Homo sapiens: one gene and its partners. The protein of the gene in region 3 interacts with the protein of the main gene of each other region in a pairwise test. Each region holds a gene or a part of one and is shown on either strand. Other genes may lie near its edges.

Evidence for each region.
Region 1: the proteins of KCTD4 (region 3) and FER interact in a two-hybrid assay, tested with the Homo sapiens proteins (one large-scale study listed by BioGRID and IntAct).
Region 2: the proteins of KCTD4 (region 3) and TNS4 interact in a two-hybrid assay, tested with the Homo sapiens proteins (one large-scale study listed by BioGRID and IntAct).

Annotation. Positions count from the first base shown.
Region 1 is NC_000005.10:109,191,813-109,194,686, forward strand, and holds part of FER (tyrosine-protein kinase Fer), read left to right. Parts: 3' UTR 1-2,874. UniProt on the Homo sapiens protein: Tyrosine-protein kinase that acts downstream of cell surface receptors for growth factors and plays a role in the regulation of the actin cytoskeleton, microtubule assembly, lamellipodia formation, cell adhesion, cell migration and chemotaxis.
Region 2 is NC_000017.11:40,498,760-40,502,890, reverse strand, and holds the start of TNS4 (tensin-4 precursor), read left to right. Parts: upstream 1-1,267; 5' UTR 1,268-1,357; intron 1,358-4,131. UniProt on the Homo sapiens protein: Promotes EGF-induced cell migration by displacing tensin TNS3 from the cytoplasmic tail of integrin ITGB1 which results in dissociation of TNS3 from focal adhesions, disassembly of actin stress fibers and initiation of cell migration.
Region 3 is NC_000013.11:45,198,205-45,202,352, reverse strand, and holds the start of KCTD4 (BTB/POZ domain-containing protein KCTD4), read left to right. Parts: upstream 1-1,307; 5' UTR 1,308-1,529; intron 1,530-4,148.

The DNA of each region.
Region 1 (2,874 bases), on a different chromosome or scaffold from region 3:
GAATCCAAAACCACATATGAAGATACTGATTTTAAAAGTCAGGATTTCATGTACCAAGAATGACCTACTTGAAGGAGATTTTGCTACACTCTTAGAGTCCCAAAAATTCCCCTTTAAAAAAAATGCTGTCCTACAGAAGGTGTATAAACTATACCTTAGCCATAATTCAATTTAATGAAATACTACCCCATTAAAAGCCATCCTCCTGCCTCATACCGATTCAGAAATTAAATTCTGAACTTTTAGTGTAGGCATTAGGAATCACTTAGCCACTTAATAAGGACTGAGATTCTTGGGTGGCAGAAAAATCCTGGTGTGCTAGATTCTTAGTCACTTTAAACTGCATAGAAGTAATGAGCATAGGCTTCAGTATATTTAATAAGGTGCTGAGGCAGCAGATTCAAATGCAAAAGAGGGAGGAACCAGTTATTCCAAGGCAGGATGATGCACCCCCACACAGAGTGTGGAAAAATTAAAGTGAAACAAAGATTTGGACAGTGTCATTAGGAAGCCTGAGGAGAACATGCTACAAGGCCAGATCCTGTCCTATGGAAAATAAAAAAGATCAGCAGAACTAAAGCAAAAGCAGTCATCTCCAGTGTGTGGGCCTTAGCAAAGAGTAAACCAAATACCTCTCCTTGTGTTAGGAGCACTGTTATATTCCCAGCTCAGAGATGATTGTGTGCTGGGAAATGCTTATATTCATTATTTCCCAACTAATGCATTTGGACATATGTATTCCAGTTTTTCAAAGACACTACCCAAAGCTTCTTTACATTTGCATTGGTTATATTTAATATTTCTTAAGCTAAGATCACTGATTATCCACACGTTATTAGAAATCTTTGGTTACAGTGAGGCTTAACCTGGGCTAAAGTCTCCTAAATGGGACTACACTTAGATCCGCCCTATTTCACCTTTGGACTAACGTTGACTAAATGGCTCCTAGAGTTACCCACAGAGGGAGCTTACTATGATGAGAGCTACTGTGGGGAAACATAGTATTCAACAGAGAAATGGAAGAATACAAGTAGCAATGTTCCTTGTCTTCAATAACATTTGAGGGAAAGGAATCTAGAAATCCTAAAGCTTAGTCAGGGTGCCTAAGGTAAGACACAAAAAGAAAGAGACATCCAGAAAGGAAGGTTGAAAGGAAATGAAGGGCAGTAACAAAGCACCAATGTAAAATGACCCATAGCCAACAATAAATGCAATAACAATAAAGGAAACTAACCCTCACAAAGGGTTTGAGGAGCTTCCTGCTGTGTGTCCTTAAACAGTGCGTGCCTCTTAAGTCTCTACAACACTTTTTTAAAGGGCATTGAATTGGACATTGGTTTAATTTTTACCTACGCTCCCTATAATCTCAGGAGGTAACCATTATTTAATCAGAATTACCCTTGCTCTGTTTATCTGTGAGGCCTCAGACACAACGGTGGTTCAGCCCTCTCCCTAAGCAGTAGCAAGCTGAGTAATGGCACACATATGTCTAGGATAGCCAGCATTCAGGAAAATTGCTGTGAACCTCCTGTTTTTAATTTTAATATAGAAAAAGTCTTTCAGGTTTGTGACACGAAGACAGATTTAGCTTCCCACTTGTCAGCAAATTTGTAAAAACCTCAAAACAAATGAATATTTGGAATTCACTCTAAGAGATACAAATCCTGAATTTCTAACTATCTTCTCAAATATTACTGAGGCCAGCAAGATGCAAGTGTTCTACAAAATAATGAACTGTTCTAAGTGACAGTGTTGATGCTGGAAGTGGAATGTTATGTTTTCGCTCAGCTGTATTCATTCAGAAAGTTTTTCTTGAACATCTGCCACATGAGGTGCAGAGAATACTACCAGGTGCTAGTTTTTCCAGTATTTGACTTCTGATTACTATTTCCTTTTCTCATCTTTAGTTTTTCAAGATTTTGCTTTACCAAAATAGTAAAGCCTTTATCATCAGCTTATATTGAATAATGTTGTAATTGGTTTCAATCAAAGTTTCTCCTCAGGTACTTGGGGGCCCCTAGCCTTCTAAGGAACTCCCAGGCACCTACTTAACAAGGCCAGCTACACACTCAGTATGTGATAAGCCCCATGATGGATGCAGGTTAGAATTCAAAGACCTGGTTGGAGTCCTAGATGTGGAGACAGGATGATCAGGTCACACTTGTTAGATGACTAACACTATCAGTAGAAGCTCTTGAGAGATTTTCCTAACGCAGCAAGATTTCTGTGAGTAGAGGTATCCTGGGAGGTATCCTGGGAGGCAGCCTATTGACTTGACCAAGTAAGCTGATCAGGTGGCCTCCTCTACCCACTAAAGAAATGTGTAAACACTAGCAATAATTGCTTTATCTTAAACTCCTGGACATACTCAGTTCTTCCATTCCACTGTTCTATTGCCAATACCTTTTGTTGTTTTCTTCACACTCCTCTTGGCAGCAAATGTCTGAAAGTATTTCAATTGTGTAATGTTAAGGAGTTTTTTCATAGCTTCAGAAAAGAGGGCAGCAAATATGAAGCCTTAAGTTCAAAATAAGTCATTCTACCTAGAAATACAGACCCCAGAGCACATTGCATGAAAATACCTGTACTCTGCAGTTCCTCAAAGCAGTATTCTTCCTGAAAAGCCAAACACCACACCTATTTTCCTATTTGCTAAGAATCAGAATAAGCACGTTGTAAATAGTATCCAAAGCAGATTCTAAAATGACATAGTAAGAAGCCAGATTCAAATTGTAACCAAAGAAGACAATAGAAATCCCACTTTACCCCACTGTCATCAGTTAGAACACCCTTGCAAAAACTGTAACCACTTAAGCAATTCATCTGATCCCAGAAGATCATACCTTCTTTTGAAAGTATAGGACAGATATCAGT
Region 2 (4,131 bases), on a different chromosome or scaffold from region 3:
TTCGCCCTACTGTAACCTGCCCCTTCCACTCAAGAAACTCACGAGTCGCCCCTCCCACTCTCCCACAATCATGAGCCACAGCCTCATGGGGGAAGCCGCCATGTGCAGTGACATCCACTCCAGGGCAGGAGCACCACATTTTTCATCCAAAGACATAATTGCTCATCAAGCCATGTGCCAACAAGGCTGCATGGACACCTAGGGACACCTTTTATGTCACCATCAGGAAGGGGCACCTTATATAACTTTCCATAGCTTTGCTCACCGGCCTCCCATGCACTAGTTCACCATGCCTCAGTGAAACCCCAGGGCATCAAAAACTGTAAGGCCAGAAGCCCTTCCACTGGGCATAATGGGGGCATGGGGCAACCCACCCCTGAGATTAGCCTACTGGGATCACCATGAGTCCCTGGGCTGGAGACTTCGCCAGCTCCCTCACTTCAGACCGCTCCCAGACCAGGCTCTGCCATCAGCACCCTCCCCTCACCATGTCTGAACACCTCCTTACAACATTCTAGGACCCCTGCCCCTCTAGAACAGGGAGAGAGTTGGAACCATGGAGAAGGAGCTACCAGACCAGACTTCTGGGCTTCCTGATCTCACCCTCCAATGTCCTCCCCTCAGGGAACTTCCACCCTGGGGCACAGACCAGACGAGGGACAGAGATAGCCCATGAGTGAAGGAACAGCTATAAGCCCCTTCTCAAAGCCCTCCAGACACTTCAGCCTCCTTTCCTTGAGTTAGAGGCCCCATCCCAAGCTAGAGTCATTACTGTAAAAGGAGAGAAAGAAGAAAAGACAAGCTCGTGCCTAGCCTTACTTCCAGTGGGCCCTTACCCTGTGCCTGTCCCAGTGTGACCCAGCACAAAGGGGGACTGCAGAGGGTCTCCTGCCCACTGGCATCCTGCTTTGTCAAGGCCCTCACTCTCTGCCAGCTCTGCCAACCCATGGCCTCTGCCCCAGCCAGCACCTGAGGAGTGCCCACTGCACACCTTGATTCTAGCTATGCCCTGTCCAAGCAAGGACTCCCTGGCCATGTGGTGCCACGAGAAGCCCAAGCAGGAACTTGGGAGCCCCTCACACACACCCAGACCCAAAACCCACCACCCAGTGCTTCCCTTCCTGCTGCCTGTGCCAGCCCCACCTGAGCTCACTGGATCCAGCAGGGGTGGGGCCTACTGCTGTCAGGGCCACGTGCAGGGCCCGCCCGGAGGGGAGGAGAGAAGGCGGGCAAGCTGCTTTTAAGGCAGGTCTGGAGGTGAACTGGCGCCTCTCCTGACTCTTCACCTGGACTCTGAGTCGTCTTGGTCCCAGGAGCCAGTAGTGAAGGCAACAGTCTGCCCACCTGTGGACACCAGGTAGGTGCCTTTATTCTTTAAGAAGAGAGGAACACGGAGCACCTTTGCTGGCCCTGATTCATTTAAACATTTTTTTTTTTTTTTTTGAGATGGAGTCTTGCTCTGTCACCCAAGCTGGAGTGCAGTGGCGCGATCTCGGCTCACTGCCAACGTCTGCCTCCAGGGTTCAAGCGATTCTCCTGCCTCAGCCTCCCAAGTAACAGGGATTACAGATGTTTGCCACCATGCCCGGCTAATTTTCTTATGTTTAGTAGAGACGCGGTTTCACCATGTTGGCCAGGCTGGTCTCAAACTCCTGACCTCAGGTGATCCTCCCACCTTAGCCTCCCAAAGTGCTGGAATTACAGGCGTGAGCCCAGCCTCATTTAACCTTTTGTCTTCAGCTTCTCCATTTCTCAGGGCTCAGAGTGAAGGTGGGGAGAAATGGGGTGGAGGATGTGGATGAGACAGAGATGGTCTCAGGATCACAGACCGCGGAGTTCAGCAGTTCAAGGGAACTAAACCTGTGCCCCTCGGCAAATAGATGAGAGAGCTGAGGGCCACAGAGAAGAGGCTTGCCTGAGGTCATGGAAAGGGACTGGACACAGAACCCAGGCCTCTCGCCTCCCAGCGCTCTGGGAGCCCTCTGGGCACTTCAGAGGTAGACAGGACTGGGAGATGGGGCGGCTGGCCTTCACTGGTCCTATGGGTCCCTGCCTGAGGTCCACGTCCTGCGTCACCGGGTCTGGGTGGGAGGGATGGGAAGATCGGGAGCCAGTTTTCAAAAATAGGGGGTGCAGTGGAGATTGGGCTAATGAGGCAAAGTGCTTTGGGGGAGACTCAGGCTTTACCCTTGCCCCACCCTCTCCCTTCACTGACCTGGGCTCATTGGGAGAGAGTAAGTCAGGAGAAGAGGTTGGCAATGACACGGAAGAGGGGATTTGCCAAGGCACCAGGACTCCCCAGAGTCCTTGGGAACAAAGAAAGAGATCTGAGTCAGAATCAGAAGTGGGAGCGGGTAGGGGGCACCTACAAATAGAGCAGAGGTGGCTGGAGCCCTCCTTGCCCCCGCCCCGTGCCTCCCAACCACACAGAGCCCCGGGCCCAGGGACTCTCCCCACCACTTACAGCAAGAAAGAGCAAGTTAGAGGAGTGTGCGGGGCCGCGAAGGGGGCAGCATTCAGGAATACAGGAGTAAGATGGAGCCCTGCCTTGGTACATCCAAGGGCGACGCAGAGCCTTAAAAGTGAGGGGAGGCTGAAGAGGAGCGTAGGGGCTGCCTGCCCTTTGCTCAGCTCCAGGTCTGTCCCTCTTGGTTCCAGAATCCCAGAAGGGGCAGCGGTGGACAGGGTTCTTAAATATGTGAAGCAGCAGCAGAGGCTAAAAGTGTGGGACCGTGGAGCAAGACCACCTGGGTTTAAACCCCAATTCACAGTTGGGGTTGTATGACCTTGGGCAAATTCCTCAACCTCTCCAGCCCTGCAGCAATAGCACCCTCCTCAGAGAGCTGTTGAGAAAATGCAAGGTGTTCAGTGTCTGTTATTATCACATCCCCATCACACAGATGGGACAACTGAGGTCTGCCCAGAGAGGAAAGGACGCTTGCCCAGCGTGGCACAAAAGCTGTGTCCAAATTAGTAAGCAGGTATACTGGGTCCTGGTTGCGAGGGGACACCCAGCCCTCCTTGAGCTCTGCAAAGTCAGCAGCCCCAGCCTCCTCTGCAGGACACAGCCAGAAAACCCTGCAGGGAGCGCCCAGATCCTGTCCCAACAAACCCAGTCCACTTGGAGCCTGTGTGGAAAAAGCCGTGGTTCCGGCTCTGTGTCCTCAGCTGTCCCGGGAGGGCGGGAGCGCAGAGGCCGGCTCCCTTCCACTTCCATTTATAGAAAGCTTCCCGTGCCCGGGATGCCCCGCCCCCTGCAGGACCTGGCCAAGGAAAAGTCTGGCATCAGACCTACCGGAGCCACGGGCGTTGGGGGAGGCAGGAGAGGGGAAGGGGCCCTGGCTTTTCTCATGAAACCTGTGCGACCTTCAGCCAATCATGCCCCCTCTCTAGATCCCAGGTGTCCCTCTGCACTTGAATTCCATGTGGCATTGTAGCAGGACGAGCCGCAGACAAAACTCCTCAGACACCAAGTTAAAGAAGGAAGGGGTTTATTCGGCCGGGGGCATCAGCAAGACTCCTGTCTCAAGAGCCGAGCTCCCCGAGTGAGCATTTCCTGTCCCTTTTAAGGGCTCACAACTCTAAGGGGGTGCGTGTGAGAGGGTCGTGATCAATTGAGCAAGCAGGGGGTACGTGACTGGGGGCTGCACGCACCGGTAATTACGTGGGAACAAAACAGGAAAGGGATTTTCACAGTGCATTTCTATACAATGTCTGTAATCTATAGATAACATAACCGATTAGGTCAGGGGTCGATCTTTAACTACCAGGCCCAGGGTGTGGCGCTGGGCTGTCTGCTTGTGGATTTCATTTCTGCCTTTTAGTTTTTACTTTTTCTTTCTTTGGAGGCAGAAATTGGGCATAAGACAATATGAGGGGTGGTCTCCTCCCTTAGCATAAGGAATTAAGATTCCAAAATCCCACACCTGGGTTTGAATCCCAGCTCCACCATCTTTCTGGATGTGAAGCGTGTTTCTTGACCTCTCCGAGTCTCAGCATCTTCATCTGTAAAATGGACTGACAACTCAAAATAAATAAATAAGGCCAGGCACAGCGGCTCACACCTGTAATCCTAGCACTTTGGGAGGCCGAGGAAGGAGGAGCACTTGAGCCCAGGAGTTCAAGACCAGC
Region 3 (4,148 bases):
TGCAGTGGCGCGATCTTGGCTCACCGCAACCTCCGCCTCCTGGGTTCAAGCGATTCTCCTGCCTCTGCCTCCTGGGTAGCTGGGATTACAGGTATGTGCCACTGCGCCAGGCTAATTTTTGTATTTTTAGTGGAGATGGGGTTTTGCCATGTTGGCCAGGCTGGTCTTGAACTCCTGACCTCTGGTGATCCGCCCACCTCAGCCTCCCAAAGTGCTAGGATTACAGGTGTGAGCCACCACGCCAGGCCAAGAAGAGTTTTGAAGAATAAGCAATGATTGTGCTGGACCTTGAAAAATGGGTAGGATTTAGACTGGGGTGGGTGGGGGTAAGAAGGAAGAGTACTGAAGGTGGTAGGAATGGCCTCTGTGTGTCTGTGCTTGCTCGCTCTTGTGCTTGAAATGTTCAACTAAGGGGCTCACACCACCAATTACTAGAAGGACATGGTCTTGCCAGCACTCTGCAGAGAAGCCACACAAACTCATCCTACCAAAGGCTTTGGAATGGCTCAATTCATATCTTTTCCTTGGCCATTTGCTCTTCTTTGGATTCTGGGAAATAGTATGGGATTCTTTCTAAATTCTCCCCCGCACTCCTTTTTTGGCTAGATTGGTTTGTTGACTGGTTTCTGCTACTTGCAACCAAAAGAATCTTATTGAGTATGAACACACATCTTTGATGATGGTAATTTATGTATATCCCACCACCTAAAATCAGAAAAAACTCGAGAGAAAATTTTAAAGGTTATGTATATAAAGCACATCCTATAAAAAGAACTGAAGGCTTCTAGTTAAGATTCTGTCACTAAACAGCAGTGTTACTTTGGAGAAGTTATTTTACATCTCTGGGCCTCAGCATCCATAATAATGATATTACTAGAATGTCTGAGATCTCTTCTAGGTCTCTTTCACTAAATAAAAATGCTAGCCTTCCTCTCCAACTGGGGATGTTTTATTATTTCATTAGTGTTATTTTGTTTGCTCTAGTACTTTCCAAAAGACCTAGATATAATTAAATTTTCTTTGAATAGAAAGAGAATAACAAAATGTTAAGAAGCTGCCCAAGGCTTGAAAATATTTAAATTTGTGCTCTATGCTGGATTATCCTGCCCTATATCTGAACTTGACATACACTCTATGTCAAAGAACTGAGGAGAAATGATACTGGCACTTTTTTTAAAAAGTTAAGGGCATCCCTAGTTTGAAGAAGTTAAAGGAATAAGCAAGCAGCAACACTGCTTATTAGCATTGGCATGTAAGTAATGAAATCAAGTATGTTAGGAAGTCTTAGGCATCAGGAAGTTACACTCATTCATTTCCACAAGACCTTCTGGATCCAGCTGAATGTGGAGGCCTTTAAGAGAACTTCCAGCTCCTGTAAAAACCCAGACCAGAGGACTACTGACCAACATTTCAGGCTGATCCTCCAGACCTCGAAGTTACTCTCCTTACTCTCCTGACTCTTAATTACATCACACCTGTGTCGACACTCTCTGGGAAAAGACTGAAGAAATAATCTTTTCAAGAAGCAGGTACATTTAAAAGGCAAACCATTTTTAATATTCCTAGTAGTCTCCTTTCTTCTCATTTAAAATATGTTCCTAGAAGTTTTTTTGCCTGTGGTTCTGAGTTGAGGTCTACTAATAAAAGGTACTAGCATCTTAACAAACCAGTTAGGCAAACTTTCTATCCCTGTATTATTAAAAAGCTGCTCTTTACTTGTGAAGTAATATTCTGATCTCTATTTGATCTTCAGGAATTTTGCCACGCATGGTGGCTCACATCTGTAATCCCAACACTTTGGGAGGCTGAGGCAGCAGCATAGCTTGAGCCCAGCCTGGGCAACAAAGTGAGACCCAGTCTCCACAAAAAGATAAAAAAGTTAGCCAGGTATGGTGGGGTATGCCTGTGGCCCCAACTATACGGGAGTTTCCTAAGGCAGGAAGATCACCTGAGCCCAGGAGGTTGAGGTTGCAATACACTCCAGCCTGGGTGACAGAGCAAGACCCTGTATCAAAAAATAAAATTTAATTTTATAAAAGTTATAAAATAATTTGCCTAATTTTAACATCAAGCAGCCACATTGTTTTGTCTCTCCCTCTCTCTCTCATCTCCCTGCAAAATTCTTTCCCTCCTCCCTGTCTGTTAATTTTACTTTCTTGTGATACGGAGGGAATAGCTCACAGAGCTGCTCAAATATTTCATCAACTATAAGATGCTATCATTTGTAATAGCAACCATTATTTTACGTGCCACCAAGACAAAATACTGCTGCTAAACTTTGACAAGCTAACGATATTAAGATGTACCTCAGTTATAGAAATGGTAAATATGAAAAAAATGTGTGATATGATAGAGTTCTCCATCCCTAGTTTATAACTCCTCCCTACTCTGTAAGAAACCACATTTGCTCCCTTGAGCCATCACATCCTGTTCTCCTGTTCAGATCCTCTTCTCTCTTCTCCACACCACCTCATCACTGAAGACACAAGCAGATGTTAAGTGATGAGAAAATCAGAAGGAACAGTGGCAGGCGCTAGTATACGGTAACAGAGACCCTCTTTAGTCATTTACTTCCTAACTGTACTACCTTTACAAGAGTTTTCAAAGTTATGCCCTTCATTTTGAGATTGTAGATAATGGTTATTAGCTTAAAATATCTTCTTCCCAAAGAGAAAGTAAAATTGCATTTTGCCAAATAGCACTATAAAAATGAGTTCTGTACAATATTATAATTTTAATGTTCATTTGATGGCTTACATAAGTGCTATGCTCATCTGGTTACAATAGAATTTTCCAGTAAATAATAACGCACAGGTTATATTTCAAAAAAAAACTTCATTTTTAAAAAACTTAAGGTATGACTTCTGCTTACAAAATTATAAAACACAGGTTTCCCTGAAATACTCATTTTCCAAAGTACATGTAAAACATGAATTAATATGACTTATAAATTGTCAAGATTGCCTCTGTAGTGAAAATCAAAGAAATGTGGAATGGAATTTCACCTGAACTTCTGAGCTAGTCTGTTGTCTTTATTTGTGCTCCTTTTGACACATAGTGCCTTATGTTTTTCTATACTCCTCAAATGAAGCTAAAACATTTACCAATGTAGGCAATTTTCCTGGGCTTCCTTGAAGACGCAGTTCAACACTGCAAAATATTTACAGCTGTATTCTTTGGACTGCAATGACATGTTCACACGACCTTGTGGCCAGAGGTTACGTCCTATTAGTCCTAGGAAGGTTCAAGTACTTGGCACAGTTTGTGAGATGCTGTGGTCAATCAGTTACATAAAGTGGCTGCCATAGTACTTTTGTTAGTGTAATACCAGTAGCAGACAACATTTAGAGCAGATAAATTTTATATTTCAAAATAGAACTAAAATTTGGACACTCAAAAAGAATTACATTAACATGGGAAAATCCTTGATTCTTAAAACATGTCAATAATTAGACAGTGTAATTTTTATTTTTAACACACAAAAGAAGCCAACACAAAATATTCATACCTCAATATCAAAATGAATGTTTCTTACATTCAGTGCTATTGACAAGAGGCAATGAAGCAAGTACATGTTAAAAAAAAAGAAACTCAGCTTGTGAAAGGCAGAGGAAGGTCAAAACACAGATCAATAAACAAAAAAACAAAAAAAAAATGTGGGCAAGTCCAAGGCAGAGATATACTGTCAGATTTAAGTAAAAAGTTGACAGCAGCTTCTCTAGCTTTTACTTTCTTTCTAAGGTAATGGGAATGAAATCCTTTTAAAAGACAAGCAGAGAAGCATGCAGCTGACAACAACCAAGATTTGATAGCAGGGGAGAATGTGGAGACAGAAGCTCCCTGTTCTTATCAAACGCAGCTTCTAAAACCATTCCTTTTCCTTGAAGAGTGTCTGAATTTTATAGAGGAATGATCTGTTAAGTCTAGGAGAATTATCATACTTTTTGTATCTTCCAGTCGGGAGGGATAACCTCCTGGTAAGGTTTCACTTCCTTCCATGGCATGGGAGTATCTCTGGCATATAAATGGAGCAAGTGTATATATTACAATGATGTCCTGCATCAATCACGGGATGACAAAGACCTCATTTCCCATAAGGAGTTGGTAAAAAGATGGGAATTCCTGCTGGAATGAGTTCTGCCTTATGC